3 separate regions of the Homo sapiens genome follow, and regions 1 and 2 are each linked to region 3. The links come from fine-mapping of genetic effects on gene expression. A gene starts in region 3. Each other region holds a variant in brackets. All regions are shown on one strand. Distances are between the middles of the regions. Region 1 overlaps C20orf203 (chromosome 20 open reading frame 203). Region 2 overlaps C20orf203 (chromosome 20 open reading frame 203). Region 3 holds the start of C20orf203 (chromosome 20 open reading frame 203).

Evidence for each region. PIP is the estimated chance that this variant, and not a neighbour inherited with it, causes the effect. A credible set is the group of variants that fine-mapping cannot tell apart.
Region 1: its variant is the best candidate, but not a certain one, in a credible set for the expression of C20orf203 in prefrontal cortex (CommonMind, PIP 0.60).
Region 2: its variant is the best candidate, but not a certain one, in a credible set for the expression of C20orf203 in whole blood (TOPMed, PIP 0.81).

What each region holds. Positions count from the first base shown.
Region 1 is chr20:32,641,048-32,651,819 of GRCh38, reverse strand. It overlaps C20orf203 (chromosome 20 open reading frame 203), which reads left to right. Exons shown (of 6, transcript NM_182584.4): 2 at 1-87; 3 at 654-802; 4 at 939-2,565. The coding sequence starts at 668. The coding sequence ends at 1,388. Among named protein-coding and RNA genes, the nearest start is that of C20orf203, 28 kb to the left of the region's middle. RefSeq lists enhancers at 3,161-3,661, 3,662-4,162. The variant A/CA (reference allele first, on the strand shown) is at 7,055.
Region 2 is chr20:32,629,277-32,640,048 of GRCh38, reverse strand. C20orf203 (chromosome 20 open reading frame 203) reads left to right here. Exons shown (of 6, transcript NM_182584.4): 6 at 5,779-8,424. Among named protein-coding and RNA genes, the nearest start is that of C20orf203, 39 kb to the left of the region's middle. RefSeq lists an enhancer at 589-1,088 and a silencer at 1,342-1,529. The variant C/G (reference allele first, on the strand shown) is at 2,782.
Region 3 is chr20:32,669,553-32,680,324 of GRCh38, reverse strand. It overlaps C20orf203 (chromosome 20 open reading frame 203), which reads left to right and starts at 6,384. Exons shown (of 6, transcript NM_182584.4): 1 at 6,384-6,693. RefSeq lists enhancers at 1-504, 505-1,103, 4,063-4,765, 5,617-5,686, 7,637-8,136 and 1 more.

The sequences.
Region 1 (10,772 bases), 29 kb after region 3:
TTCCGTAGTGGTGTGGCTTTGCAGAAGTCACTTAAGCTCTCTAATCCTCCTCCTCAGAGTGCCAGACTGCAGCTGCCACATGAAGAGGTAAGACTCGGACAGGCTAGGTGCCAGGTCACCCCCCAGTTCCCCAGACCTTTCAGATGGCAGTGGCTGGCTATTCAGGTCAGACCAGTTGCTGTGCTGGACACTTCACCTTTGTTATCTCCTCCAGTCTTCTCAGAGACCCTTTGAGGTGGGCTCTGTTGCCATCCCCAGCCTTGCAAATGGGGAAACCCAGGCATGTGACAATGAGCTCCCTTGCCTGAGGTCACGTTGGTTGGTAAAGGTGTCTGAGCCTACAGCCCTGCTTTGAAGTGACTTGGGGCAGGGATGAGCAGCTTCAGGGGGTTTTCTTGTCCACCCTGTAAGAATCTTCAAGGCTCAGAGATCATTTGCTCCAATTTTCTCGTTTCTTTTCCTTTTTTTTTTTGAATAGGGTTTCGCTCTGTTGCCCACTTTGGAGTGTAGTGGGGCGATCATGGCTCACTACGGCCTCAACCTTCTGGGCTGAAGTGATCCTCCCACTTGAGTAGCTACCCCATGAGTAGCTGAACCCTCAGGCGCAAGCCAACACACCCAGCTAATTTTTTTTTTTTTTTTTTTTTTTTTAGAGAGAGGGTCTCCTATGTTTCCTAGGCCTGTCTTGAACTCCCGGGCTCAAGCGATTCTCCTGCCTCAGCCTCCCAACATGCTGGATCACAGGCAGTGGCCACCTCGCCTGGCCAGTTTTCCCTTTACAAAAACTGGAATGCTGAGCCGGGTAAGAAGTGCTGTCCCTGTCTCCCACACCTGGGCTGACACTGGGGACTGTTGGGAAATTAGGGAAGACCTAAAGCCCCTTGCGAGTCTCAGGTACTAAGATTCTATGATCTTCTTGGGGGCCTTGTTCCCAACAGGCCACATCAGTCTTGGCTGGACTCACTGCCCACCTCTGGGACCTTGGCGGTGGGGCGGGAAGGAGGACCTCAAAGGCTCAGCGAGTCCACCCCCAGCCCAGCCACCAGCGCCAGCCTCCTCCTCCGCAACACCCAGGCCCTTATCAGGAAAGGATTTGGGTTGGTGGGGAGGGGTGGGGGGAAGTTGGAGGCCTCAGGCTCAGCAAGGTGGGTCGGAGAGATAGGGAAGTGGGGAGGGGGCTGCGGGCCCCTGCTGGGCGGGGGAGGGCAATGGGAGGGATGCCCAGAATGGGCACGGTGGGGGACTTTGGCCAAGCTCTGTCCTCGCTGGCCTGGACCTCAACATGTTTCCAGGACTTCTGCCTCCCATCCTTGCCAGGCAAGTTGCCTGCACCTTTAATTAGCAAGCAGCAGTTTCTCTCCAATTCATCACGGTCGCTGTTTAATTAGCCGAGCCCAGGGCGCCCCCACCCCCAGCTCTGCCTGCCTGTCCTACCAAGGCCACCACCACCTCAGGGTGTCCCCTGTTACCACCCCCCACAATCATTCTGCTCCCCAGAGTGGGGGATGGGCCCGGCACGCCCAGCTGAAACCTCAAGGAGATTCTGGGCACCGGCGCTTGTATTCAAGGCATTCAGCAAACATGATTAGGGACCGAGGCTGTGCCAGGCTGGCTCTGGGTAGAACCCCGGCCGGACATGCGGGGCAGGCTCTGGTCCTGTCCAGCTGCTGGAGAATGGCTTCTCCCTTGGGAGGCGCTGGCACATCTCTCTGGCTTGGTCCCTGAGTGCTGGGAGGAGGCTGCAGTACTCCTGTGTGTCACTCCCACCCCACATCCGGAAAGGGACACCATGTCTTCCTCTTCCTCTCTCTTCCAGAGCCCAGAAAGCTCCTCTGAGAATGCTGGACCTCAGGACAGGGGCCCATGCTCTGCACCCGGCCCTCAGCAGCCAGATCCTAGAGGCCCAGTCCAAGCTGTGGGCCAAGGGAGCGGGGCGGGCTGAGGCCTGCTTTGTGTCGGCAGGGTCTGGGGAATTGGGAGCACTGGCGGGAGCCCATGGTCCGGGGCCGAACCAGCCCCCTTCTGTTTCCCTGAAGAAGGGTGAGGCTGAGGGCCCTCGGAACAGAGCCCCTGTGTCATTCTGTGCAGGGCCGGGATAGCCACTAGTCACTGTGGGCAGAAGCAAGAAGCAGAGGCTCAGGCTCCATCCCAAGCCTGTGCTCCTGCTGGGCTGTGGGAGGTGTGACCCTTCCACTGTTTCGTAGACTGAGAACATGGAGGGACTGGCATTTGCTGTGTTACCCTGTGGTGCCATCAGCGTGTTGTGACAGGGGCAGGAGGAGTGTGCTAGAACCCACCCACTCTGGTACTGCCCATCTCTGTGGCCTTGGGCCAGCCACCAAACCGTACCATGCCTTAGTTCCCCTATGATTCATAGCTGCTTCATGGGCTGATGTGAGGATTAAACAGCTTACTATGTGTTGGGTCTGGTTTTGTTTGGCTTTGTTTTGTTTTTTGAGACAAGGTCTCACTCTGCTGCTCAGGCTGGAGTGCAGTGGTGCAATCACAGCTCACAGCAGGCTCCACCTCTCAGGCTCAAGCGATCCTCCCATCTCAGCCTCCCTGGTAGGTGGGACTATAGGCACATGCCCCCATACCTGGCTAATTTTAAATTTTTTGTAGAGATAGGGTCTCACTATGTTGCCCAGGCTGGGGCTTACAGTGTTTAAAGCACTTAGGAACACTGTCTGGCAGGAGTCCTTGATAGTCATTGGCTGTTTTTGCCATTCTTTCCTCTCCTTTATCCAATCAGCACTCCTTGCCAGGTATGAGGAAATTGATGTCAGTGGGAGAGGCAACCTCCCTGCTTTTCAGAGTTTGCCTCCTCATGGGGGAGGCAGCTGAGAACAAATGAGTAAGGAAGAACACAGTTTCACCGGAGTAAAGCCTGCGGCTCATCAGTGTAATGTACCAATGTCACTTTCTTGGTTTTGACCACTTACCATGGTTAGGTAATAGGTTGACATAAGAAAAAACTTGGTGAAGGGCCAATAGGAACTCCCTGTACTATCTGTGCAATTTTTCTGTTGCAAAATAATTTCTAAGTTATTCCCTAAAGAAAGTTTATTGGCCCAGCGCAGTGGCTCACACCTGTAATCCCAGCGCTTTGAGAGGCCGAGGCAGGCGGATCACGAGGTCAGGAGATCAAGACCATCCTGGCTAACATGGTGAAACCCTGTCTCTACTAAAAACACACACACAAAAAAAAAAAATTAGCCAGATTTGGCAGCAGGCGCCTGTAGTCCCAGCTACTCGGGAGGCTGAGGCAGAAGAATGGCGTGAACCTGGGAGGCGGAGCTTGCAGTGAGCCACCGTCACACTACTGTACTCCAGCCTGGGCGACAGAGCGAGACTCTGTCTCAAAAAAAAAAAAAAAAAAAAAAAAAAAAAAGACAGTTTCAGGCAATGGTTAGTGCCATGAAGCAAACAATCAGGGGCAAGAGACAGAGAGAATAGGGATTGGGGCATTTCGGGAGGGGTGGTCCAGGAGAGCCTCTGAGGGAGGCAAAGCTGAGCAGAACCTGAATGATGGGAAGGGCAGGGAAGGAGGAGGGAATGGGGAGTGCAAAGGCCTGGAGGCAGGATGGGCTTAGGCTGTTTGAGGAAGCTGGGGAGCCTGGGCTCCAGATCCCACACCCCTGGCCACTGCACTGGACTGGGAGAAAGGACCCCAACTCTGGAGTCAGCTAGACCCGGGTGTGATACCCACTGCTGCCTCACTGTGTGGCCTTGGGCAAGTAGCCCAAGTAGCAGATCTCTGTTACCTGGATCTGCTGCCAGGGATGGAGGAAGAAAGCCTGCTCCTCAGAGGGCACAGAGGGTGAGAGAAGTGGGTAGGGGTTAGCTTGCCTAGGGTGCTGTAGGTGCCATCAATGGATTGGGGAGATACTATGAGGGACCTGACACCCTCTGAGCCTGGAAGGGTGGGGGAAGGCGACGCCCCCTGCCGTGGGTGGTGAGGCTGGGGAAGGAGCTGGGACCAACACTCCTGCACTCCAGGCTATGCACCTGACCCTGAGCAATTCCCCGACCCGTGGTAGTTTCACCCTTTCAACTCCGGGTGGGGAACTGTATCTGGCGCTTTCCACACATTAGTTCTCCATTTTACTTTTTTAGACATAGGGTCTTGCTCTGTCACCCAGGCTGGAGTGCAGTGGCATAATCTTGACTCACTACAGCCTCAATCTCCTGGGCTCAAGCAATCCTCTCACCTCAGCCTCCTGAGTAGTCGGGACTACAGGCGTGTGCTAAAATACCCAGCTAATTTTTTTAATATATTGTAGCAACAGGGTCTTACTATGTTGCCCAGGCTGGTTTGGAACTCCTGGCCTCAAGTGATCCTCCCACCTTAGCCTCCCAAAGTGCTGGGATTACAGGCATGAGCCACCAAGCCAAACCCTAGTTCTTCTTTTTTTTTTTTTTTTGAGACGGAGTTTCACTCTTGTCTCCCAGGCTGGAGTGCAATGGCAGGATCTCGGCTCACTGCAACCTCCGCCTCCCAGGTTCAAGCAGTTCTCCTGCCACAGCCTCCCCAGTAGATGGGATTATAGGCACACGTCACCACGCCTGGCTAATTTTTGTATTTTTAGTAGAGATGGGGTTTCACCATGTTGGCCAGACGGGTCTCAAACTCCTGACCTCAGGTGATCCATCCAGCTTGGCCTCCCAAAGTGCTGGGATTACAGGTGTGAGCCACTGCGCCCGGCCCTAGTTCTTTATTTTAATCCTTATAGTTACCCTGGGGGAGGCATGAGCCTCTCCACTTATGAGTGAGACAATGGAGGACAGAGACTCACATCAAGTGTCATGTGGTGAGTGACCAGTGTGTGCTAGATGGAGAGACCCTCCTGGCCCTCAAGGCTGTGCCATGGTCTTGCTGGGAGACATGGGGTAGTTGAAAAGGGCCTGGGTGAGGCATGGGTGTAGCTGTGGAGGGATGAGCCAAGCAAGTGGTAGGAGCTGGCCTGGGCACCCAAGGCATGCATGGGGCCTCTGGCTAGCATGAGTGCATGTGTCAGGCCAGGGGAGCAGCTCTGTGCAGTCATCATGTAATCAGCTGTGGTAACAGTAATAATGCGTGACTGCAATACACAATTCTGAAGGTGGCAGACAACCTATAGGGACAAGTTAGGGCTCCCACCCTTTCCCCAACTGTTTCCCTCCCCGGAGATGACCTCTGGGGCCTATTCCTTGTGTTTCCTTCTGGAGTCAGCCTAGACAGCCCCATCTTGACCACAACAGCAGGCCATCAGTGTGGGCCTTCTAGACACCACCTGCTAGGAAGCCCTTGACACACAGTTTAATCCTCATACTAGGCCAGACGTGGTAGCTCATGCCTGTAATCCCAGCACTTTGGGAGGCCAAGGCGGGTGGATCACTTGAGGCCAGGAGTTCGAGACCAGCCTGGGCAACATGGTGAAACCCCATCTCTACTAAAAATACAAAAATTAACAAGGCGTGGTGTCATGTGCCTGTAATCCCAGCTACTCGGGAGGTTGAGGTGGGAGAATCGCTTGAACCCAGGAGGCAGAGGTTGCAGTGAGCTGAGATTGAGCCAGACTCTGTCTCAAAAAATCGAGCGAGACTCTGTCTCAACAAAAAGATCGAGCGAGACTTTGTCTCAAAAAAAAAAAAAAAAAAAAAATTGGGATCAAGCAAGACTCTGTCTCAAAAAAAAAATCCTCATACTGACCCTTACCTTAAGGCCCACTCTGTTTTAAATTGGAGAAAGCAGAGACACAGACAGGTTAAGTGACTCACCCAAGGCCACACAACTTACACAGAATTTGAAGCCAGGGACTCTCTGATAGCACTGTGTAGATGGAGAAACTGGGGTACAGAGAAGTTGAGGTGTCTACCCCAAGTGACCCAGTGAGGAAGCTGGGGAGCCCAGGCTCCAGATCTCACACTAATAGTCTAACACTTCTCCATCCTCAACACTGCTGGCCACTGTACTGGACTGGGAAAAAGGTCCCCAACTCTGGAGTGAGTCAGACCCAGGTGTGATGCCCACTGCTGCCTCACTGTGTGGCCTTGGGCAAGTAGCTGCCCCTCTGTGACCTGGATCTGCTGCCAGGGATGAAGGAAAGAAAGCCTGCCTCTCAGACAGCCTGAAGATGGGTGGTATGGTGGAAAAGCTCGGAGGGCTTGAAGATGGGCAGTGTGGTGGGAAAGCTGGGAGGGCTTGGTGCTGGCTCTCTCTCCTCTCCAATGTCTGCTTCTGCGCTGGGCAGGAGGACGTGCAGCAGTGCAGGGGAGAGGTCTCGCAGGAGAGGAGTGGCCTGCAGCCACTCAGCCAGTCTGTTTGCTGACCCAGAAATTCTGGGAAGTCCCAGTTTGGGAGAATATCCCCCCAGGGGGGCAGGGTCATCAAGGAGAGGAATAGGGGTTTTGCAGAGAGGTTTGTATGATGGGCCCCCCTCCCCTCCATACACCCCCAGCCTGAGTGCCAGGATTCTGGAAGGTCAGTGAGCCGGGCGGGATGCCAGGCAGGAGGCTGCACCTGAGGGCAGCTGGGAATGATCACAGCATTCAAAGACTTAGGCATGGCCTTTGGCTTAGCATACCCAGAAAATGGATTTCTCTACCTGTCTTCCCTGAACAGATGATCAGAGTACTAGGGGCTGAAAGAGCTCGATTCTCCAGGACATCGAGCGACAAACCCAAGTGCCAGTTTCTCCATCCACAGTGTGGGCCAGGCTGTTAGGGGCCAGATCACATTAGCCCCCCAACCAATTCCTCTTATATCTGAGGCCCTGAGAACCTGGCTTAGGAATGGGAAGGGGGCCTGGAGAGCGAGGTGTGGCACAGGGTTTGGGGCGTGTGGTGGCACTGGGGCTGGCGAGCCAAACCCAATCTTGGAGCTTGAATCCTAGCCCTGCTGCATCCCTGGACATGTTAATTTACCACCGAGAGCCTCAGTTTCCCCCATCTGTGAAGAGGGATTATTATCAGAATTGAGATCTCACCATACAGGTACACGATGCATGACACATCACTGGTGCTCAATAAATGTCAGTCTCCTCCCTTGACTAGCTGATCAAGCTCATTTTCC[A/CA]AACCTCGCAGGGCCTAGGGAAGAATTTTGGCCCTTGTCCTGTGTTCAAGAGGCCACTCTCTGGGAGATGTAATCTGGTTGCTGGATGTTAGATTTGCTGAGATGTTTACAGGGAGATGTGAGGGGCTACTTGAATGGGGCACTTTCCCAATTAATTAGGCTCAGGGTCACAGGGCCTCCCCTGCAGGTGCCCCCAGGGGACTCCTGATCCTTGACATCTCCCTTGCCTGAGGCTGGGCTGGCTCAACCCATAGGGCTTCTTTTTGGCAACTCCTTTTTCTTTTGTGTTTTGTTTTGTTTTGGTTTGTTTTGGTTTTAGAGATGGAGTCTCGCTCTGTCGCCCAGGCTGGAGTGCAGTGGTACGATCTCAGCTCACTGCAATCTTTTCCTCCAGGGTTCAAGCAATTCTCCTGCCTCAGCCTCCCGAGTAGCTGGGACTACAGGTGTACGCCACCACACCTGGCTTATTTTTTGTATTTTAGTAGAGACAGGGTTTCACCGTGTTGCCCAGGCTGGTCTTGAACCCCTGAGCTCAGGCAATCCACCCGCCTCGGCCTCCCAAAGTGCTAGGATTACAGGCGTAAGCCACGGTGCCTGGCTACAACTCCTTTTTCTAGAAGGCTCCTCGCAGACGCCACCTTCTGTCCTGACAACCTTCTGGGTATTCTGTCTGGTTTGGGGTAGCCAGAGGCAGCTGTGCGGGGTAGAAAGGGACCTGGGCCAGTCCTGGCTGGGCAGTCGTGGGCGTGGGGTATCCCTGGTGTGGCCTTCCCACTCTGACCCTCTCTGATCCCTGTGGCAGGGCTGAGAGTGCCCCACAGGGCCATGATGCTTTCATGGTGGTGAGTGTGAAAGGGTTTTAAAAACAGAAAGGCACTTCTCCTAGGTGATGATGATGATTTTTAGCAAATCTTCCCATCTTTTCTGTGATTCACGGAAGCTGCAAGATAGAAATGACCTTGACCATCATTGTTTTCTAGGAGGATGTTAAATCGACCTTGGGCAGAAAAGGGTGTTCATCGTCAAATAAATTTGAGAAACAACGCAAACATCCACAGAGCTCTTCACTGCAGGGTTTCGCAGAAACTTTCGTGTGTGTGTGTGTGTGTGTGTGTGTGTGTGTGTGTGTGTGTGTGTGTGGTTCCAGGAAGCGGCTGGGTCTACACTAGCACCCAGGCCTATGTGACAATGGTGCCCTTTTTTATTTTCCTAGAGCATCCCGTGAGTTAGAAGTCCATGGGATCCACTTTGGGAAATGCCAGAATAGTCTAACACTTTCCCGTCCTCCACACAGCCCAGCTGGATGAATCCGGGGGAATATGGGAGAATCTGGGGTTCAAAGAAGTTAAATGAATTCAGGAGATGCTCTGGGCTTTATTTTAAGGCTGAGATTTTAACTGGCATTTTACCTCTATTAACCCATTTAATCTTCACAGCCACCCTATAAAGTAAGCATGACTGTCATCTCTGTCTTCCAAAGGATAAACTGAGGCACAGAGAGGCCAAGTGCCTGCCCAAGGTTCACAGCTGGTAAAAGACAGAGTAGGACACTGATCCCAGGCTGCCTGAGTCAGAGGCTGCCCTGGCACCCCCTCCCAGCCTGTCTTTACCACACAGGTTCTTGGAGCTGCCTCCACCAGCAGCCACATTCTCACAGCACTGGGCCGAGGTGCACCTTCATGCGGCGGCTGGTCTCAGGAGAGTCTGTGACTCCATTTCACAAGGGGACAGGCTCTGAGTACAGGGTCTGGGGATGCCCTGTGGGTGAGCCCTCCTGCCCACTGTCTGTAGCCTCCCACCGGCAGCCTGGCCCCACCAAGACACAGCCTTAGGGTCTCATTTCGTTCTCACTCTGGTTGTCTCCATTCTACAGGTGAGGCTGTGAGTGAACTGAGGCTCAGAGATGGAGAGTAACTTGTCCATGGTTACACAGCAAGGAGATGGTAGGGCTGGGATTCAAACCCAGGTAGTCAGAATCCAGAGCTGGGTGTTCAAGATGCAGGCGCCCTTGGTGATGAAGCAGTGAGTTTCTGGGGCCAGAGGCTGGCAGGGACACACCCCACCAGTTCCCTGCCCGCCTCTGACCAGCTGCCCCCCTTACAAGCCCCTAGACAGATAGGCTTATGGGTTCCCTGCTAATCTCCCTGGCCTCTCCTTCCCAGCCTCAGACAGGCCAATAGTCAGTCACGTAAAAACAGGCCAGATAGATTACTGCCACCAAGGACACAAGAGGCAGTTGCCTGGTGGCCTCTCGCCGCGCCAAAAGTGTTATCTCTACCTCCTGGAGCTGGGCCTCAGCAGTTTCTTCCTCCTGGGGTGTGGACTTCTTGGTCTGTGTGTTTTTTCTTCCCCTTTGGCTTACTCGTTCCTAGAGATATACTTGTCTGTCTGTCCATCCATAGACATTCACTGGACACTTGTGGGCCAGGCCCCAGCAGGACTTACTCTTCCACCTGCTCAGAGCAGGGCCAAGTCTGCAGGGGGCTTCAAGATGTCCCTGGCGGTGGGGCATATGCCATGGGGGTGTGTGCAGTGTCCACCATTTGATAGTAAAGCAAGGGCCAGACCTGGCTCTAAATGCTACTTCCAACAACTTAATAATAAAGACACAAATAACCCAATTTTGGTTGGGCACAGTGGCTCACACCTGTAATCCCAGCACTTTGGGAGGCCAAGGCAGGAGGATTGCTTGAGTCCAGGAGTTTGAGACTAGCCTGGGTAACATGGAGAGAACCCGTCTCTACAAAAAATACAAAAATTAGGCGTGGTGGTGTGTGCCTGGTGCCTGTAGTCCCAACTACTCAAGAGGCTGAGGTGGAAGGATCACTTGAGCCTGGGAGGTGGAGGTTGCACTGAGCCGAGATCGTGTCACTGCACTCCTGCCTGGGCAACAGAGTGAGACTCTGTCTCAAAAAAACAAAAACAAAAACAGAAACAGAACAAAAACAAATAACTCAATTTTAAAAATGGCGATACGATCTAAACATATATTTCTCCAAAAAAGATGTATAAATGGCCAATCAGCAAATGAAAGGTGCTCAATATTATTGGCTATCAGAGAGATACAGATCAAAACCACAATGAGATACCACTTCACATTCACAGGATGGCTAGAATAAAAAAGACAAATAAGAACAAGTGTTGGTGAGGATATAGAGAAATTGCAACCCTCATACACCGCTGATGGTAATGTAAGATAGTGCAGTCATTTTGGAAAACAGTCTGGCACATTCTCAAAAGTTTAAACATAGAATTATCATTTGACCCAGAAATTCCACTCCTAGATATATAATTGAGAGAATTAAAACATATATCTACACACAGACTTACACAAATGTTAATAGCAGCGTTATTCCTAACAGCCAAAACGTGAAAACAGCCCAGTTGTCCTGAATGTCTGTTTCTTTCTTCCTTTTTTTTTTTTTTTTTTTTGAGTTTTTGAGTGCTCTGTCACCCAGGCTGGAGTGCAATAGCGTGATCACGGCTCACTGCAGCCTTAAACCCTCAGGCTCAAGTGATCCTTCCACCTCAGCCTCCCTAGTAGCTGGGACTAAAGGCTACTCCACACATGCACCACGACACCCAGATAATATTTTGTATTTTGTATTTTGTAGAGACAGGGTCTCACTATGTGTCCCAGGCTGGTCTCGAACTCCTGGCCTCAAGCAATCCGACCACCTCGGCCTCCCAAAGCGTTGGGATTACAAGCATGAGCCAC
Region 2 (10,772 bases), 40 kb after region 3:
ACCTCTTGGAGCCTCAGTCTCTCCATTTATAAATTGGGGTAACCGAGGACCCACCTCCACAGGAAGTCGTGAGAATGAAAGGAAGCAGGCCGCCCACGAACGGCACATGGTACAGACCCCAACCCTTGGAAAACACTCAGGAATCCAAGGGCCTGTTATGATTACGTGTGTGCCAGAGTGGAGTGCTCTGACCGGGCACAGCTCATTTCTGTGTGTTCTGTATGCTTCAAACATATCATGATTTACATAGCCATAGTTTCAAAGTAGGGGGGCAGTGGCCAAGGTGGCCTTGGGAGAGCCTGGAGGTGGCCATGGTGCTCGGTGGACAGATACACCCTCCCTGAGCACACCCACTGTGTGCCTGGCACCAGCTCTTGTTGTCTCCTTTAATCCTCACGGTGACTTTTTTTTTTTTTTTTTTACTATTTAAAAAAATATTGTTACAGGGTCTTGCTATGTTGCCCAGGCTGGCCTCAAACTCCTGTGCTCAAGCGATCCTCCAGCCCTCACCTCTTGAGTAGCTGGGACTACAGGCCAACACCACCATGCTCCTCATAATGACACTTATGAACCCCATATTACAGATGAGGAAACTGAGGCTCAGGGAGGTGCAGTGATTTGCAGGGTGGAACTGGGGTTCGTTTCCAGGTTGGCCTGGTTGGAAGCCCATGTTCTGCCCACTTCTTGGCCTTCCAAGGAGGGGCAGCTTTGAAAGGTGTTGGTACTGTCCAACTGAGACTGTTACTGTTTCCCAGACTTGGGTAGAGGGAGAAACATCCAAAGGAAGAAGTCACTGTTCCCATATCTCAAAGAGCAAGGATTGTTTTCAGCTGAGCCTGCTGTGTGCTGAGCCCTTTGCTGGACTGTGGAACACTGTGGGTGGTGTCTGCTGTCAGGGACTACACAGGCTCGTGGCGGAGAGCCAGGCCAGCCAGGGGAGCCAGGGCTCTGCATCCTGGGTAGGGGCTAGAGGCACAGGCTCTGGAGCCAGATAGTTGGGGCTTGTACCCTCCCTCTGCTGGTGGCTTGGGCAGCTACCTCGCTGCCTGAACTCTGTTTCCCTGTTGGAACTTGTTGGGTGTAAGAATTAAGTAAGTCAGAGCATCTTGAGTTGCACACCGCAGCTCCTGACACAGAATATACACTTGGTATCACCAGGTGAGTCAGGCCGACATTGCCGGGAGCGCAGGAGGAGGGGCCTGGGACAGGGGATGCTGCCCGCCCCCCCTTTCTGCTTCTCTCCAGGGCCAGTGCATGGCAGCCAGCCCATGTGGAGGCCTGGAGACAGGTGGTCCACGGCTTCTGTGGCCATTTTTCAGGAGAGAAGAGGAAGCAAGGACAGCTTTGCTGAGAAGTTGGCCTCCATCTCCCCAGTCAGACCCGGTCCCTCCTGTCCTCCAGTTTTGTGCAGCTGTTTTGCATTCAAGCACAGCTCCTGCCTGGCTCTGGGTCTCTGTCCTCTTCCCTTTGGTTACCCTCACCTCTTCCAGGGTGGCCACCAAGTGGGACCTCAGACTCCTCTGGTGTCCTGGACCTGCTGTAAATCTCAGCAGACCACCTCTGTGACCCTGGGCAAGTGACTTCACCTCACTGATCCTCCTTCCTCTTCTGCAAATGGAGTCTCCAGCACCAGGGTTAGCAGCACCCTCCAGAGTCTGACTGTGACCCCCACTTTCTTGCTGTGGTCCCCTGAGCAAGTCACTTAGGCTCCCCAGCCTCATCTGCAAAATGGGGACAATTACATGTCAGAGATTTGAGAATTAACTGAGAAAACATACATGAAGCACACAGAACAGTGCTTGGGACATAGCAAGTGTTCAATATATGTTGGCCATGGTTATTACAGTCCAGGCTTTCTTTTAAGGCTGTTGCAAAGAGCTCAGGGTCCTGCCCCAGAGAACCCACCCCCAAATGCCAGGTCCTTGGCTTCACATACAACCAGGCATGATGGCTCTTTGAGTCCTCACCCTGGCCTCTGCCCCTCCTGCCATCAGATTGGGCACTCTGCTTTGTATACACACACACACACACACAAGCACACATGCAAACAACAAGTACACAATGCACACACACGCACAGACACATGGGCGCACACACACGCCCATACATGCACCTGCACACACACAAACACAGGCACACACACAGGCACATGCACACACACCTACACCCACACACATGCATGCATGCACACACAGTGACGCAGAGGGCACTGATGTCTGTTGAACAAATTAAACAAAAGACCAAATGTGTGAGAAGGCCAGGAGGCTCCATCTTTTGCAGGAAAGCAAGGATTCATTCATTCAATGAATTCTTACTGAACACCTATTATTCTAAGCATCAGAAATACCTCAGTGATCAAAACAGATAAAAACCCCTGCCCATGTGGAGCTGACACTGTAGTCCAAGAGACGGACCCTAGTGAAAGTGAACAAATGACATGGAGAATGTCAGTCAGTGATACATGCTAGGGAAGCCTGTAAAGTGGGGGTGGGGAGTGGGGAGGCTATCATCTGAGATGGCAGTCAGGGAAGGCCTCATGGAGGAGGTGACATCTGAGCAGATTTGAAGGAGGCAAGATTACTGTTTCGTTGTCTACTCATTCGTTTCTTTTTCTTTCTTTCTTTCTTTTTATTTTGAGACAGTCTTGCTCTATCACCCAGGTTGGAGTGCAGCAGTGGCGTGATCTTGGCTCCCTGCAACCTCCTCTTCCTGGGTTCAAGCGGTTCTCCTGCCTCAGCCTCCCCAGTAACTGAGACTATAGGCGCCTGCCACCACGCCCAG[C/G]TAATTTTTGTATTTTTAGTAGAGATGGGGTTTCACCATGTTGGTCAGGCTGGTCTCAAGCTCCTGACCTCAGGAGATCCACTTGCCTTGCCCTTCTCCTAAAGTGCTGGGATTACAGGCGTGAGCCATTGCACCCAGCCCTGTGCTGGTTCATTTCTTCTTTCCTCTAGGCAGTGAGCCAGCGTCAGCAAGCCTGTCCTTGGGCCTCTTCTGTGGCCTGGCCTTGGCAGGGTTGGGGAGGTAGAGAGCAGCCCAGCCCCTGCCCCTGGTGACTCTCAGGCTGCTGTCTCCCGGCAGTGGGAGTGTGAACATGTCCTGCCCACCCAGTGAGAGTCAACAGAAGCCAGGGTGACCAGTCCTCTTGGTTTGCCCAGGCCTGAGGGGTTCCAGGACACTGGACTTTCATTGCTAAAACTGGGCAGTCCTGGGCAGACCAGGATGAATGGGTCACTCCAACAGAGGCTGCCCTTGGTGCCAAGGGGCAGAGGAAATATCAGGGAAGTCCTCCACTTCTCTGAGGATGTCAGGTTTGCAAGGGACATGGAAGAGATATATGCCCTCCCTGGGTGAGCGGGGAGGACAGAGGTTCCATGGCCCAAGTCCAGCAGCACATGGGGGGCGCAGGTGGGTGTGAGGACGAGGCTGTCTTCCAGGGCTCAGTGAGCGATGAGGCAGGAAGGGATGACAGGGGCCTTGCGTGTCTGCAGAGGGGCTGTGCTGACTGTTGGCAGCCAGCCTCCAAGTAGGTGGGCAGCTCCTCTGTGTTAGCATTTTAGAAAGGCCAGCGCTTTGCTGTGCAAGGTTATCCACTGGGGCCAAAGGCAGAGGGGAGCAGCGCCGTGTCCTTGCTCTCCCTTTCGTTGATTCCAGCAGGCGTTAAGCACCTTCCAAATCCCCAGCCCTGGCCAAGTGTTCAGATGTCTGCACTAGTTCAGCAAGACAAAGAGAGAGAGAAAAAGCAAATTGTGGCAAATCTAAGCGAAGGGTGTTCATTATACCATTATCTTTGGTTTGGACATTTTCGAAATAAGATATTGGAGGCGGGAAACAAATAGAAATAAATCCTGGGCCCTATAAAGCCCCTGGGGAAGAAAGAGGTAAGGCAGGTCCTTCCCCCAGCAGCTCACCATCCAGGCAAGTATCTGGGCATGCACACCCGTTGTTCAGTGGCAAGGGTGCTCGGTGTGCATGACCTCCCCAGTGGAAGGACCCTGAGGGGGGCCTGGGGGCTGGGGGAACTGTGCCAGATGGAGAGAGAAAGCAGAGGGCATTCAGACAGGAACGGCAGGAGTCAGAGCACGTGGGCTCACTGTACACGGGATGGGAGGACGACACGTCATTCCGGGTGGCTCCCTGGGGGTTTTTGCTGGGCTGGGAGGCATGGCTCAGGAGGATGCTGGAAAGAGAAGTTGTGGCCTCATGGAGTTGCCTCCTAGAATCTGTCTCTGAAAATGAAAATGTGAGACTGGCCCACCATTACAAAATCAGAGAACACAGGAATGTTTATTTTAGACAGGGTCTTGCTCTGTCACCTAGGCAAGCGATCCTCCCACCTCAGCCTCCCGAGTAGCTGGGACTACAGGCACACACCACCATGCCCAGCTAATTTTTGTATTTTGTAGAGACAAGGTATCCTCATGTCCAGGCTGGTCTTGAACTCCTGGGCTCAAGCAATCCCCCCACCTCAGCCTCCCAAAGTGCTGGGGTTACAGGCATGAGCCATGGTGCCCAGCCGAGGAAATGATTATTATTATTTATTTATTTTTCTTTCTGAGATGGAATCTCACTCTGTCACTCAGGCTGGAGTGCAGTGGTGCGATCTTGGCCTTCTGCAACCTCCATCTCCCGGGTTCAAGCAATTCTGCCTCAGCCTCCCGAGTAGCTGGGATTACAGGCATGTGCCACCATGCCTGGCTAATTTTTGTATTTTTTAGTAGAGATGGGGTTTCACCATGTTAGTCGGGCTGCTCTTGAACTCCTGACCTCATGATCTGCCTGCCTCGGCCTCCCAAAGTGTTGGGATTACAGGCATGAGCCACCGTGTCTGGCCCATTTTTATTTATTTATTTATTTTGAGACACGGTCTCACTCTATTCCCCAGACTGGAGTGCAGTGGCACAATCTTGTCTCACTGCAACCTCCGCCTCCCAGGTGATTCTCCTGCCTCAGCCTCCTGAGTAGCTGGGATTACAGGCATGCACCACCATGCCCGGCTAATTTTTGTATTTTTGGTAGAGACAGAGTTTTGCCACATGGGCCAGGCTGGTCTCAAATTCCTGGCCTCAAGTGATCCGCCCACCTTGGCCTCCCAAAGTGTTGGGATTACATGTGTGAGAGACCGCGTCTGGCTGAAATTATTTTTAAAAAGGAACTACAACCCCCAGGTTAGTCCATCACCAGAGATAACCACTGTGAAGCATTTGACACATTTCTTCCTAATATCATTTCATATATATATATATATGCATATGTAGGTCTCCTAATAAAAAATAGTTTGCCTCTTGCTGTCTTTTACCTACAGTTACATCAGATGCATTGTCTGGTGCCTTTAAGTAGTCTCTGAAATCTGACTCCTCAGCCTTTTGGATGACTCCAGCCGGTGGTGGCCCTTTGACAAGTGTGGCCCCTTCTCGTGGCTGGGCACAGAGGCTGTTTCACTCGTTTTCTGTGATAAAAACACCGCAGTAAACATCCTCCGTCCTGCGTAACTTCATGTCCACATTGCTGATTGTTTTGTTGTGTTTTTTTCTGATAAATTTCTGGACATGAAATTCTCGGAAGCCCTGCTGGGCCCGGAGCTGGCTAGGTACTCGGGAGGGTGCTGGGCTTCCTAGAGCCACGCGTCCACACCTGAGGACAGCTTGGACCCAGCTGTAAGGAACAACGTGCACTTCTTGAATGTCTCACGCTGTCTTCCACCGCTTTGTCCATGATGTCACAGTACCTCTCGCCTCCCCTCCCAATGCCTGTCTTGCTAATTCTTTCTTATCTTTCCAGACTCCAGCATAACCTTCTCCAGGAAGCTTTTCCAGAGCCCCCAGGCTAGGAACCTCCCCCCAACCCCTGAACTCAAGCCCCAGCAGCCCGTGCCTGCGCCATCTCCATCAGAGCTGCATCTCTCTGGGTCTCTGGGTAACAAGTGCCATTTCTTTGTTGTTTTCTGTGTCCCCCAAGGACAAAGCTCAGGCTGGATTCATCTCGGAATTCCCAACACCGGGGTAGAACTGGCTCATTTCAATTTCAGTCAATGTTTGTTGAGGAAAGGAGTGAAGAGTTGGACACATGAATGAACGCATGAAACAGTCCGGAGTGGGGAAGCTGAAGCTCAGGCATCAGGATCCGGGAGAAGCATCCAGTCCAGGCGGACGGGGTGGAAGGTTCAGAGCAGGGGCCCCAAGTCAGGAGTAGGGAGGCAGACGGCAAGACCTCCTTCCATGAAAGGAGGCTGGGACCAGGGGACCAGGTAGTGCAACGCGGTGAGGGGGCTGTCAGGGCGACTGGCCGGAGGAGTCAGAGGCAGGAGGCACCACCAGGTTACAGACAAGGACCTTCTACAAGAGGGAAACGTGTCATGGGCTCTGGAGCCCCTGTCCAGGTTCAAATTGTGACCCTGTGCCAGGGACAGCTTCTTTGTGCCTCAGTTTTTCCCATAAAATGAGGATAATAATACTTCATTCATGCCTTTTTTTCCCCTCAACAAACATTTGTTGTATGTCTGCTGTGGGCCCAGGACAGGAGGCTGAGAAGGAGCTGACCACAGTGGTCACACAGCCAAGCCCTGCTGCTGAGATCTGACCCCAGTTCGCCTGTCACAAGTTCTATCTGTGCCTCGTTGTCTGCCTCCTGGGGCTGTTATGAGGGCTGAAGAAGGGGCAGGCACAGAGGAGACACTTACTATATGATCATTGTCCTCCTAGAGTATCATCACCATCAGGTGGACTTCAGTGGCCATCCCAGGCCTCCACGGATCAACCACAAGATCTTGGAGAATGTCCTTACCCTCCAAGCCTCAGTTTACCTTTAGGGTGACCAACCATCCTGGTTTGTCCAAAACTGAGGGTTTTCCTGGCACAGTCCCAGGCAAACTGGGATGGTGAGTCACTGATATAGTTTGACTCTGTGTCCCCACCAAATCTCACCTTGAATTTTAATAATCCCTAGGTGTCAAGAGCAGGACCAAGTAGAGATAATTGAATAATGGTGGCAGTTTCCCCCATGCTGTTCTCATGATAGTGAGTGAGTTCTCACGAGATCTGATGGTTTTATAAGCAGCTTCCCCCTTTGCTCAGTATCACTCTCCCTCCTGCCGCCCTGTGAAGAGCTGCCTTCCACCATGATTGTAAGTTTCCTGAGGCCTCCCCAGCCACGCAGAACTGTGAGTCAATTAAACCTCTTTTCTTTATAAATTACCCCAGTCTCGGGCATTTCTTCACAGCAGCGTGAGAACAGACTAATCCCGTCACCCTGGTTTCCTCATCTCTAACACAGGGACCACCTGCCTCCCAGGGCTGTTGTGCAGAACAGAAATAAGCCTATGGAAAAGGCAGAAAACCATGGAGCCAGAATTCTAGATCTGGTTACATGAATACTAAAGACTTTTGCATGCCATGGAATTCTAGGCATGAAAAAGAACGAGGCGGTCCCGTGTACTGCTGTGGAAGAAGCTCTGAGATACATGTTTTTTTTGTGAAAAAGGCCAGATACAGCGCACTTTGTGGGGAGCGCTTCTGTTAGTACCAAGGAGGGGGCAGGAACACACGTGCATGTGCTCCAGTGCGCACATGGGTTCTCCCGGGCGGGGACTGGGGGCTGAGGAGAAAAGACTTGTTTTTCACTGTACATCCCTTTGCTTTGTTTGAATTATTTTACCCCTTTGTTTTCAGTAGCTGGCCGAAAAACTTCCCAAGCTTCCATGTGTCAAAAAGAACTCACTGAACGAGATTTAAAGGCCAAAGTTAGGGAGTAGGAAATGTGTCTAGCTCAGGGCCCAGCATCTAAGGAGTGCTCCATGAAAGGCCTTCTCCCCTCTCCCACTCCTGACCTTGCTGACTGCTGGGAGTGCAGGGGCACAGACGGGCTGTTGCCTCCCCCAGTGCGGTATTTGTGAGGCTCAAATGCAAGCCCAGGCTGGGGAGACTGCTCTGGGTTCCACGCGGCATCCTGCCTAAGCCCTGGGGGTCCTAGAGGTCACTGGCTCCCTTCTCTGCCTGCATGTCTCAGGTCGCCCTCTGGCCAATTCTGAAGTCCTGCCCTGCCTCAAGGAGCAGAGGTGGCAGAGGTGGGCCCACCGCACAGGGTAAATGTCCCGGTGTCACATACCTCCAGATTGCAGGGACCTGCGTATGCTACTGCTGCTGTGGAAACCAGCTCTCTCTGGCTCTGGCCTTGGGGAGAGGGAGCCACAGTGGATTTAGGAAGAGTCTCCAGATGTAGCTTGAGACTACCAAACAGGCCTGACCCCCACAGACCCTGCCTCTTATGAGCGCCCAGACTGAGCCCTGCTTCAGGCTCCCAGCCATGTGGCCAGCTGCTTTTCTTCTTTAATTTTTAGCATCAGACGAATATTTCAGGAAAATATTCTCATTGTAAAATCTCAAACATTAATAAAATGTAGTGAATAAAAGGCCATGTAATTCCTCTTTACCTCCTGAGCCCCATTCTGTTTAAACCATTGTTGTCAGCTGGTCAGTGTATATACCTATACCTATGCCATGCCTATACCAATACCTATACCAATATCTGTAACTATACCTATGCCACTACCTATGCCTGTGTCGTGCCTGTACCAACACCTATACCTAGACTATCTATATTTATATCTGTTTAGATGTGCATATTGTGTTTAGGTATGCGTCTCACGTGAGTAGTAACATTCTGTATGTTTTGTTCTGCAAGATGCTTTCTTTTTCTTTTTCTTTTTTTCTTTTTTTTTTTTTTTTTTTTTTTTTAGATAGAGACTCATTCTGTTGCCCAGGCTGGAGTGCAGTGGCTCAATCTTGGCTCACTGCAACCCCTGCCTCCCAGGTTCAAGCGATTCTCATGCCTCAGCCTCCCAAGTCGCTGGGATTACAGGTGCACACCACCACACCCAGCTAATTTTTGTATTTTTAGTAGAGGCGGGGTTTCACCATGTTGGCCAGGCTGGTCATGAACTCCTGAGCTCAAATGATCCTTCTGCCTTGGCCTCCCAAAGTGCTGGGATTACAGGTGTGAGCCACCGCACCCGGGCTATTTTTTTTTCCCCTCCCTCCCTTCCTCCCTTCCTTCCTCCCTTCCTTCCTTCCTTTCCTCTTTTCTTTTTTTCAAACAGGGTCTCACTCTGTTCCCCAGGCTGGAGTGCAGTGGTGTGATCTCGGCTCACTGCACCCTTGCTTTCCCAGGCCCAAGTAATCTTTTTACCACAGCCTCCAGGTAGCTGGGACTACAGGCACACACCACCAGGCCTGGCTAATTTTTGTATTTTTTTTTTTTTGTAGAGATGGGGGGTCTCACCGTGTTGTCCAGGCTGGCCTCAAACTCCTGGGCTCAAGTGATCTGCCCGTCTCGGCCTCCCAAAGTGCTGGGATTACAGGCGTGAGCCACCGCGCCCGGCCAATGCCTTCTTTTTCACTGAACAACGTGTCATGGACATTTCTGAGTCAGTGCATACAGACCTGCCTCCTCCTCCGTGCTGTGCAGTGTTCTGTGTGTGAGCTGGTCCATCCTTTATTTGCCCTCTGGCCTATAAATGGACATTTCCATTATTTCACTCCCACACACAGCCCTGAACAGGCCTCACTGTGCACTCCAGCAGTTTCTCCAAGATAGGTACCCAGCTGAACCCCTGGCACTACTGAAGAGGACGGGTACCAAATTTGTGATCGGTATTATATAAAAACTTGCCTTCTGGGAAGTCCAAACTAAGCTCTCCTTACTCTTGGACTTCCAATCACTCTGTTGGGTTGGCTTTTAAAGCTGGGCCAAGGAGAACTTTTCAACCATCTTGGCTTGCCCTGTTGGTGGGTGGGAGACAGGGTCCCCGGCCTGGGGCAATTTCAGGGAGAAGGGGAAGAACTCCCCCAGTCCCCAAATTTCTCTCCCATCTAAATGCCCCCCGACCTGAAAATGGAGATAATAATAGACCTTCCCTCACAGAGTCTTTCTGGGGACGCTGTGAAAAACAGCCAGGATGGAGATCTGGTGCAGAGGGACAAGGACAATAACAGTCGTAGTGCGACGTCCGGAAGCCTCGCCACGCCGCCCGGAAGCTTCGCCACGCTCCAGGCACTCTTTGAAGGCCCCACCACCATCTTCTCCCTTATGGTGCCTGGCACCCACCATTGTGGTCACTTGCACTAATGCGAGTCCTACCAGTGGCTGGTGCTGGTTCTCACATGCTCCTCTGCATCACACCTGATCCACATCACTCTAACCCAGTGGCCTGTGAGTTCCCATGGCTGACATTAGCTGCAGGGCTGGCCCAGAGCTCTCTTCCAAATTTGCATTCAGAATCCTTCCCCAAAATACCCAATTAAAACCCCAGATGCTGTGTGGACAGCTGGATCCAAAAAGAGCTCTGGGATCAGTGGGACTTACTTACCCAGTCTCAGCTACTCCAAGATCTGGGAAACAGTGGGTTCTTTGGGCCTGGGCCAGGCCAGAGCCTCAGTTTCCCCATCTGTAAGATAGAGGTGGTTGCAGTCAGACTGGATAATTCCAAAGTGCAGTTTTGTTTGTCTCAGACCTCCTGCCCCACCCTCTCCAGCTTATATTCTCAGAAAACATGGTGCTAAAAGGAATGGCCCCGTCTTGGCTCCTATTAGCCTCTGTCTCAGGAGGACAGGGGAGCCCAGGACCAGGGAATCAGTCGGAAGTTCAAGTTCTACTCCTGACTTCAAGTTCTACTCTCCGCCTTCTAGCTGCAGCCCCAGGTGATGTTTGCAAAGGCCCCTGTAACTTAGTGGGTGCTTAGTCATGGTCCCTCCCCTTTCCATGCCTGGGCAGATCTCTGA
Region 3 (10,772 bases):
CCTCAGCCTCTGGAATAGCTGGGATTGCAGGCGCATGCCACCATGCCTGGCTAAGGCTGATTTTTTTATTTTTAGTAGAGACAAGGTTTCAACATGTTGGCCAGGCTGATCTTGAACTCCTGACCTCCGTCTCCCAAAGTGCTGGGATTACAGGCATGAGCCAACGCACCTGGCCTACACTGGGTGCTTTTGAGATCCCTGTTAGTGCCAACGTTCTTTCCTTCTGAAATGACCTCACCAAGGCCCAGAGTTCTGCAGGGGGCTGGACACTGGCATGCGTGGGCAATCTGACCTGCCAGAGCACCTTCCGGTGGCTCCTCTTTCACTCGCCCTCTGAGGCTTGCTCAGCTCAGAAAAGGAAAAGCGCTACTGGTTATCGGTGGGTGCTGAGCTGAGCAGGAAAAGCTGAGCCCTAATCCCAGTATTCCCTGGAAGGGTCTGCATGACCTTGGGCAAGTCACTAGCCTGCTCAAGAGAACAGGGACCATGTCCCACCTCCTGCCTCCATCCTAGGGGATCAGGGGAGATGATGGATGTCAGTGGGCTCTGGGATAAGCTTACAGAAGGAGGACCCTCCAGTTTCCTCTCCCTCAGGTGTTGATGGGATTGGGCCTGCTGTAATTATCAACACTTCTAAGCAATTTGCAGGCGGCTGCAGGCAGTGGGAGCTAAGGGGAGGAGGTAGCCTCTGGAGGGCCTAGAAAATCTTTTTGCTAGATTTAGAGCAACTGGGTCCAGGTCTCCTCCTCCTACCAGTCTTGTCTGCAGGCCAAGCCATGCCTGCTCCTGCATCCTGGTCTTTGTCTCTGAGAAGAGCTCTCACCCTACTAGCCCAGAGGGGGAAGGAGCAGCAAGGTTGCTGGTGATGCTGAAAATCAAGTTGAACGTCCTTATATGACAGCAGTTTGAACAGATCAGCAAGTTCAACCACACAGAGGTGCCTGGAAGCCCCTCTCAGTGATACCTAAGAGGGAGGTCTCTGGAACCAGCCTGCCAGTTTCTTCCCTCCAGCCCTACTCTTACTGCCTGGGGGCCCATGGGCAAGTCTCCCTGCCACGGTTTCCCCATCTCTGAAATGGGAGCAGTGGCAACTCCGGGGCTGGAGGAGTAAATGCAGCAAAGCATGTGTGTTTGGCACTCACAGTGAACCACAGTCAACGACAGCCAGCACCACTGGGGGTGGTTGCTGTCATCGCTGGCATTATGCCTCACCCAGCCCATCTCTTGCACTATGTTGGACACTGTCCCAGGATGGCGGCAACCATCTCTGTCCCCGACACAGTGCCCTGACAGGCCTTCCCATCTGAGCACCAGTTGCCTGCACTGCACTTCTTTTTTTTTTTTTTGTACACAGAGTCTTGCTCTATCCCCCAGGCTGTAGTGCAGTGGTGCGATCTTGGCTCACTGCAACCTCCGCCTCCTGAGTTCAAGTGACTCTCCTGCCTCAGCCTCCTGAGTAGCTGGGATTACAGGCACCCACTACCATGCCTGGCTAATTTTTGTATTTTTAGTAGAGACAGGGTTTCACCATGTTGGCCAGGCTGGTCTCGAACCCCTGACCTCAGGGGATCCGCCCACCTTGGCCTCTCAAAGTGCTGGGATTATAGGCATGAGCCACCATGCCCGGCCACTTCTATTTATTGTTTTTGAGACCGAGTTTCACTCTTTTTGCCCAGGCTGGAGTACAATGGCGCCATCTCGGCTCACCGCAACCTCTGCCTCCCAGGTTCAAGCAATTCTCATGCCTCAGCCTCCTGAGTAGCTGGGATTACAGGCACGTGCCACCACGCCCTGCTAATTTTTGTATTTTTAGTAGAGATGGGGTTTCACTGTGTTGGCCAGGTTGGTCTTGAACTCCTGACCTCAGGTAATCTGCCTGCCTCAGCCTCCCAAAGTGCTGGGATTACAGGCATGAGCCACCGCGCCCAGCCACTTCTCTCTTTCTTTCTTTCTTTCTTTTTTCTTTTTTTTTAAATAGAGACAGTCACTATTGAGACTGTTGCTCAGGCTGGCCTTGAACTCCTGGGCTCAAGTGATCCTCCCACCTCGGCCTCCCAAAGTGCTGGGATTACAGGTGTGAGCCACTGCACCCAGCCTGTGCTGCACTTCTCTATGCATATGTCTCACCGTCTGGATGGCAAATTCCTGGACTTCTGGGCTTCCAGAATTCTGATGCACCCCACAGCTGACACTGGCTGACATTGCTGGAAGGACATGTTAACAGTCTTAGAAGGGTGTGGAGGGGAGGCAGGGCTCCTCCCTCTGCACTACTCTGTGCTTTCTCCTCTACCTCTGGTTTCTCCTCAGAAGAGTGAGGAGCTGTGGTCATTTCACAAACCCTGTAACACTGGGAGAGGTGGAATGTGACTCAGACTGCCCAGGGAAAGAGGGGCTGCCAACCACGCCCTTCCTCTTTCCTTCGCACCTGCACGTCCTGAGCCAGTGGTTTGTGCTCCTCTGTGAGAGCTGATAAACTGGCCTATGGGGAGGCCCAGAGCCATTCCCCATCGCACCTCCCCAAGTGGGGCTTTCTAAAAGATCCCGAACCTAGGAGGTGCTTGATAAGTGATTGCTTGATACATGCTTATGAGGTGGGGTTTGCTTCTCCCAGGCACTGACAAGGTAGATAGTGCTGACAAGTAATAGCCTCTGAATTGCCAAAGGCGATGTCAAGCTTTCGCCATTAAGGTTTGAGCTAGAGGGGTACAAATTAGAGGTGAAACCAATGTGGGGAGCTGAGAGTCAGAGCTCTTTGGGGGCACACAGTGCTCTCAGCACTGCTGAGAACTCACATTTCTGCACGGACTCTTAGCAGTGAGGGCCAGAAAATGCAGTGGGCCTGAATGAGATGCACGTGCTGCAAGACCAACTCTGCTGGTTCAGTTAACACTCAGGGAGCCATGTGGTCAAGGGCAGCATCGGGGCCTACATCCTGGAGATACCAAGATCCAATTAAGCAAGTGTTTATTAAACACCTACAATACACCCGGCCCTGGGCCTCTGAGATGGAGATGATGCCGTCTCTGCCCTGGGTAACCCCGGGTGGACACATGACAGACACTAGGTGATTAAGAACCATTTGAGGCCGGGCGCGGTGGCTTATGCCTCTAATCCAAGCACTTTGGGAGGCCGAGGCAGGTGGATCACTTGAGGTCAGGAGTTCGAGACCAGCCTGGCCAACATGGTGAAACCCCGTCTCTACTAAAAATACAAAAAATTAGCTGGGCATGGTGGTGGGCACCTGTAAATCCCAGCTACTCAGGAGGCTGAGGTAGGAAAATCGCTTGAACCCAGGAGGCGGAAGTTGCAGTCAGCCAAGATTATGCCATTGCACTCCAGTCTGGGCGACAAGAGCGAAACTTCGTCTCAAAACCAACAAAAAAAACGGGTTCCTTTGTTCCACTGCGAAGAAGAGCAGTGCAGGCATCCCATGCTCAGATGGGAAGGCCTGGTTCCTGGGGTGGGTGGCACTTAGGAAGCGAGCATCTAACTAGTTGCAGGGCCATGTGCAAGTCACCAGTTTCCATGCCTCGGTTTCCCCACCTATCATACAGTCCTGCATGATCCAGCCTCTGTTTCTCCTCTTGCCTCGTGTCTGGCCAGCCGCTCCATGCCTGCACTCCCTCTGCTGCTCCGGCCTCCAGTGGCCTCCCAGGCTAACACCTCCTCATTTGTCACATCTCAGCTCAAGCATCATCTCTAGGAGGCCTTCCCTGGCCACCTGGCTCTGCATCCTCTCACACCCCATCATGCCTTATGACACTTGACATCACGTGCAACCGTGTATTTATCTGTTGCTCTTTTTAGTGGCTTTCTCTTCTTGGCCCAAAGCCTGGCACTGAATAAATATTTGTTGAATGAATGAATAAACTAATGAATGAACAAATGAGCAGGTGTGCTGTGGGACTCAGATGACCCCACAGCTGGGACTCAGTGCCCTGGGAGTGGAGGGACACAATGTGTTCCTAAGCCCATGGGCCAGAGTCAGGGAATCCCACATAGAAACTGGCTTCCCCTGGGCTTCCAGAGGCTGCCAGGGAGCATCACTGCCTTAGGCCTCCCGCCCGGAACAAGAACAGGCCTTCCTGGAGCCACTATTGTGGTCAGCATTGTTGTGGTCCTTGCTGCCCTCGCAGCTGTGCTCCCTGGAATTCCCAGGTGGCTGTGTGTGTGTGTGTGTGTGTGTGTGTGTGTGTGTGTTAGTGGGGTGGGCGTGGGGGAAACCTGGAGCCCTGACCCTGAGGCCACCTGCCTCAGTGGGTTGGACAGGGAGGCTTCTTGAAGATTGACCCCCAACCTGAGTCTCCCCAGCGGAAGGGGAATTCGGCTGGTGGGGAAGGTGGGGGAATGGGCGTGGCGTATTCTAGGCTTAGGGATCCCAGGGCTGCGGGAGGACAGCCAAAGCTGGAGCGCCAGTCGTGCAGGCCAGAGCTGATGGGGCTTTGCCTACCATGCCAGGTGCTGCTTCTGGAGGGTGGGGCAGGGGGAAGGATTTGAAATGAGGTAGCAACAGCACAATCAGAATTGTGTTGTTCAAAGGCCTTCCTGTCACGGGGAGAGGATAGGCCACCACAGGTTCTTTCCTATCTCCCTCTTTCCCCTCCAGACCTTACCCCTTCTAAAATGGAGGCATTTTGTTTGTTTTCGCTCAGAACCCAGTTCCTCATGAACTGTCATTGTAAATAGACCGGAGGCCAGAACAAAGGAAGATTTTTTAAAATTATTTTTTCCTCCTTTAAAGACTAGCTTAATGAGAACTGCTGACATGGGGTAAAGTACAGCACGCCCAAGCTGAGAGAGGTGTGGGGGTACCCTAGACTGGGAAACTGAGGCCCAGGGAGAAGCACTGCTGGGCAAGGAGCATCCCTCTACATCCCAGGTGGGGTGGGCGCTCCACACACCAGTGTGATGGGAAAAGTGGAGGTGATGAGTGTCCTCACCTGGGCACAGCCTGGCCCTCATGAGATGGAACGTGCAGGGAGCCTTTTGGGGGAGGGTTCAGGAGGAGAACTGGGTGGTTTGCCCAGGAACTCAGAAGGAGTATTCCCTAGGCGGGTGGGTAGCGTGTGGAAGGACACCTGAGGCAGACAGAAGACACAGAGACCCAAGGGAGAAGGAAGAACGGCTGGGTTTAGAGACGTGGACGTAAGTGAAAGGGCAGAGCCAAGGATGCAGCAGGACAGGAGGGAGGGGGTTAATAACACACTTGAAGCCCACGGTCCAGGTTTGATTTCATTTAACTTAGTTTACTCTGGACCCCTGAGTCTCTCTCAAATTTGAATGGCCTTTTTTTCCTTTTGAAGGGGGATTCTTTAGGAGGAAGGGCAGAGAGGGCACCAAGCAAGTAGATACTGTCTCTAATAAAAGTTTTGGTCATGGCCAGGCGCAGTGGCTCACTCCTGTAATCCCAGAACTGGGAGGCCCGAGGCAGGAGGATTGCTTGAGCCCAGGAGTTCAAGACCAGCCTAGGCAAAATGGCAAGATCCCTATCTCTACAAAAAAAAAAATAATAATACAAAAATTAGCTAGGCATGGTGATGTGCACCTAGTCCCAGCTACCTAGGAAGCTGAGGTGGGAGGATTGCTTGAGTCTGGGAGGTCGACGCTGCAGTGAGCTGTGATTGCACCACTGCACTCCAGCCGTGGTGACAGAGTGAGACTCTGTCTAAAAAAAAAAAAAGGAAGTTTCGAGGGTGAGATGAAGTAAAAGACTGGAATGTTCTTGAGACATTGGGCTAGAGATTGTCATTTGTTTTTGCTACTTAAATCCAGGTGCTCTGGGCTAACCTGATTGGGCCCCTGATGCAAAAGCGCCTCCTGGTGGGTGGTTCTGAAAACACTGAATACTTTCCTCCCCCTGCCACCCAGTAACAATATTAATAATACAAATACAGCATTTTTTTTTCCCTGCAGAACAAAATTCCTAGAAGCTGAAGGGCTGAGTTGCTGAACATGAGCATTTTACTTTTAGGCAGATTACATCAAAGTCTCTTTCCAAAAAGTTGGCACCAATTGGCACCCCATTTTTGGTGCATTTAAATATTAAACACCAAGATGAGACTGGATGGATCCCTCTCCTGAAATGTCCTGTCCATAAATGAAAGAGCTGGGGCCAAGCTCACGGTGGCTCACGCCTGTAATCCCAGCACTTTGGGAGGCCAGGGTGGGAGGATTGCTTGAGCTCAGGAGTTCAAGACTAGCCTGGGAAATATAGGGAGACCCCTGTCTCTTAAACAAACTTAAAAAAAATGGCTGGATTAAACGACAACAACAGTTTCAGGGACCCAGTCTTTTCTGAACAGTGTCTCCCCCGCTCAGCTCTCACAGATCATTGAGGTGGGCGGGGTTAGACCCATTGACAGTTGGACCTGCAGGGCCAGGTCACATAGCCAGTGGGTCTGAGCTGACTTTTCTTCCCAAGCCTGTGTGATCCCCAAAACCCTTGGCTGCCCCCACTCTGCCCCCCGCCTCCCAGCCCTTCCAGCTGCAGCCTTTTCACTCATTCCACCACCACTCAGCTCTGAGTGGCTACGCTGGCGGGCTCTCTGCTTTGCGTCGGAGACATCACAGTGAGCAAAGGCAGATATGTTTTATGTGCCCTTGAAGAATCTCCCAGACAAACGTGTCATTGCAGTCGGAGCCAAATGGCCGGGGCAGGTGGCACAGATGAATGCCGGGCAGAGGAGCCTGCAGGTGGGTGGAATGCAGCCTGTCTGTGCTGAAAGTGTGGGGTGACCCTGGGGTTTTAAGCAGGGGATGGTGACCAAAAAAGCCAGCAGAAAGACCAGTGTGTGGTTTTGAAGCTGCTGCCCTAGACTCCCTGTGCCTCATGTGTCCCTTGGAGCTCCACCTGGGTCTCTGTGCCCACGGGGCTGCGGTGAGGCTCCCCGAATGTGGGGACCGTGTGGCCGTTGAGCCCATCTCCGGCAGCTATGGCTGAGGCGCCAGCCACTTCCGCCCTGTGCTCTCTCTGTGGTTGGCTACGGGGGCTGAGACACCTCCGGCCAGTCTTGAGGGGAGCAGGAGGAGGCTGCTGGACTGTCCCCCATGGCAGCCACAGGGCCTCTTCACTCCCTCCTGCCTCTGTGGCTCCAGGGGCCCAGCTCAGCCTCTTCCTGCCGTTTGTACCAGCCCTGGGGCTCCTCAGGAGGGCGGGCTTGTCGCTTGTTCCCCCAACCCTGCAACCCCTCCACTTCCTCTCCTCACCCGCCCCAGGGTGTGAGGTGGGACACAGAGAGATGCCCAGCCCTTACTACCAAGGAGTCTTGGGTCTTGAGGGGGCTTCTTTTATGGCCACTCATTTCAGCCCCTAGATCCTGCCAGTCCCATATTCTTCACTCCCTGAGGCCTTCTGGCTCTCAAAGCCCGAGTCTAGTGCCTTCCTACCAGCCATCTTCACCAGGCCCCTCTCCTATGCTGGGTCTGTTTAGATGCAGGGGCACAGGGAGTAGGAAAAGGTCTCTGCTGCCGGAGCCCACAGCCCTGTGGGAAGACAGCAGGGCCAGGTGGCAGTCAGGGAGAGAAGCACTTTTCTGGAACTGTGTGAAATGCTGTGAGCTTGGGGGAGGCAGGGGAGGGAGTGGGGAGGGTAGAGGAGGAAGAGTCCCAGAACAAAAAGGCCTGGTGTGGTGAGAAATTCAGGAGGGAATAAAAGGGAACAAGAGCAAGAAATAGAGACAGGCACACTGTGGTTCTTGGTTTTTCCCACAAAACTAAAGCTATTTAAATTGAAGAAGTATTTTTTTTTTTTTGGAGATATTGTCTTGCTCTGTCACCCAGACTGAAGTGTAATGATGCAATCATAGCTCATTGTAACCTTGACCTTCTAGGCTCAAGCAGTCCTCCTGCCTCAGCCTCTTGAGTAGCTAGGACTACAGGCATGCGCCACCACACCCAGCTAATACATATGTATGTATGTATGTATGTATAATATATATGTAATATATTTTATGTGTGTGTATTTATTTTATTTTATTTTATTTTTTTGAGACAGAGTCTTGCATTGTCACCTGGGCTGGTGTGCAGTGGTGGGATCTCGGCTCACTGCAACCTCCATCTCCTGGGTTCAAGCGATTCTCCTGCCTCAGCCTCCCAAGTAGCTAGGATTACAGCTAGCTACTGTAATAGCTACTGGGCGCCCACCACCATGCCCAGCTAATTTTTTGTATTATTAGTAGAGATGGGGTTTCACTGTGTTGGTCAGGCTGGTCTCGAACTCCTGACCTTGTGATCCGCCTGCCTTGGCCTCCCGGAGTGCTGGGATTACAGGCGTGAGCCACTGCCCCGGCTCCTCTTAAATTTTTAAGTGCACGCTACAGTATTGTTAACTATAACCACAATGTTGTGCAGAAGACCTCCGGACATTTTTATCTGTGTGACTGAAACTCTATACCCATTGAACAGCAACTCTCTGTTCCCCACTCCCCCTCAGCCCCTGGCAACCCAACCCCCATTCTACTATTTTTTTTTTTTTTTTTTTTTTTTGGAGACAGAGTTTCACTCTTGTTGCCCAGGCTGGAGTGCAATGGCACGATCTCGGCTCACCTTAACCTCCAACTCCTGGGTTCAAGCAATTCTCCTGCCTCAGCCTCCCGAGTAGCTGGGATTATAGGTGTGCGCCACCACGCCCGGCTAATTTTGTATTTTTAGTAGAGACAGGGTTTCTCCATGTTGGTCGGGCTGGTCTCAAACTGACCTGAGGTGATTTGCCCACCTCGGCCTCCCAAAGTGCTGGGATTATAGGCGTGAGCCACTGTGCCTGGCCCATTCTACTATTTTTTCCCTTTCTTTTTTCTACTTAAAATTTTTTTGTCTTTATTTTTTTTCTTTCTTCTACTTTCTGTTTCTTCTTTGGATTCCTCATATAAATGGAATCATGCATTATTTGTCCTTCTGTGACTGGTTTGTTTCATTTAGCATAAAGTCATCAAAGTTCATCCATATGGCAGCACATGACAGGCTTTCTTTATTTTGATGGCTAAATAATATTCCAATGTGTGTACACACCATATGTTGTTTATCCATTCATCTGTGGATGGACATTTAGGTTGTTTCTACCTCTTGGCTATTGTGAATAATGATGCAATCAATATGGGAGTTCACATATCTCTTGGAGATCCTGATTTCAATTCTTTTGGAAAAATACCTGCAAGTGGGATTCCTGGATCATATGGTAGTTCTATTTTTAATTTTTTGAGAAACCTCCATACTGTTTTCTGTAGCAGCTGCACCATTTAACATTCCCACTAACCATGCACAAGGGTTCAACTTCTCCACATCCTTGCCAACACTGTTGTTTTTTTTTTTTTTTTAAATAATGGCAGTTCTAACAGGTGTAAGTTGATGGCTCATTGTGGTTTTGATTTGCATTTCTCTGGTGATCAGTGAGGTTGAGCACTTTTTCATGTTCTTGTTGACCACTTGCATGTCATCTTTGGAGGGATGCCTATTCAAGTCCTTTGCCTATTTTTTATTTTTATTTTTATTTTATTTTTATTTTTTGAGACGGAGTCTCGCCCAGGCTGGAATGCAATGGTGAGATCTTGGCTCACTGCAACCTCTGCCTCCTGGGTTCAAATGATTCTCCTGCCTCAGCCTCCTGAGTAGCTGGGATTACAGGTGCCCACCACTACACTCAGCTAATTTTCATATTTTTAGTAGAGAGAGGGTTTCACTATGTTGACCAGGCTGGTCTTAAACTCCTGACCTCGTGATCCGCCCACCTCGGCTTCCCAAAGTGCTGGGATTACAGGTGTGAACCACTGTGCGTGGCCTATTTTTATTTATTTGTTTATTTTTTATTTATTTTTATTTTTTTTGAGACGGAGTCTTTCTCTGTCACCCAGGCTGGAGTGCAGTGGCGTGATCTCGGCTCACTGCAACCTCCACCTCCCAGGTTCAAGCAATTCTCCCTGCCTCAGCCTCCCAGGTAGCTGAGATTACAGGTGCCTGCCACCACACCTGGCTAATTTTTGTATTATTTAGTAGAGACAAGGTTTCACCATGTTGGCCAAGCTGGTCTTGAACTCCCAACCTCAGGTGATCCGCCCGCCTCAGGCTCCCAAAGTGCTGGGATTACAGGCGTGAGCCACCGAGCCCGGCCTATTTATTTTTTGAAACGCAGTTTCACTGTTGTTACCCAGGCTGGAGTGCAGTGGCTCAATCTCGGCTCATTGCAACCTCCGACTCCCGGGTTCAAGCGATTCTCCTGCCTCAGCCTCCTGAGTAGCTGGGATTATGGGATTACAGGCACACGCCACCATGCCCAGCTAAGTTTTGTATTTTTTAGTAGAGACGAGGTTTCAGCACATTGGCCAGGCTGGTCTCGATCTCCTGACCTCGTGAATCCACCCTCCTCAGCCTCCCAAAATGCTGGGATTACAGGCGTAAGCAACTGTGCCCGGCCGGATATTAACTTCTTATTACATATATGGTTTGCAAATATTTTCTCCCATTCAGTAGATTGCCTTTCACTCTTGTTTCCTTTGCTGGGCAGAAGCTTTTTAGGTTGATGTAGTCCCTCTTGTCTATTTTTGCTTTTCTTGCCTGTGCTTTTGGTGCCATATTCAAGAAATTATTACTAAGGCCAGTGCTATGAAACTTTTCCCCTATATTTTCTTCTGTAAGTTTTATAGTTTCAGGTCTTAAGTCTTCGATCCATTTTGAGTTGATTTTTGTGTTGTGTAAGGAAAGGGTCCAGTTTCATTCTTTCGCATGTGGATATCCAGTTTTTCCAGCACCATTTGTCGTTTGGTTCTAAGGGCCTTCCTTGG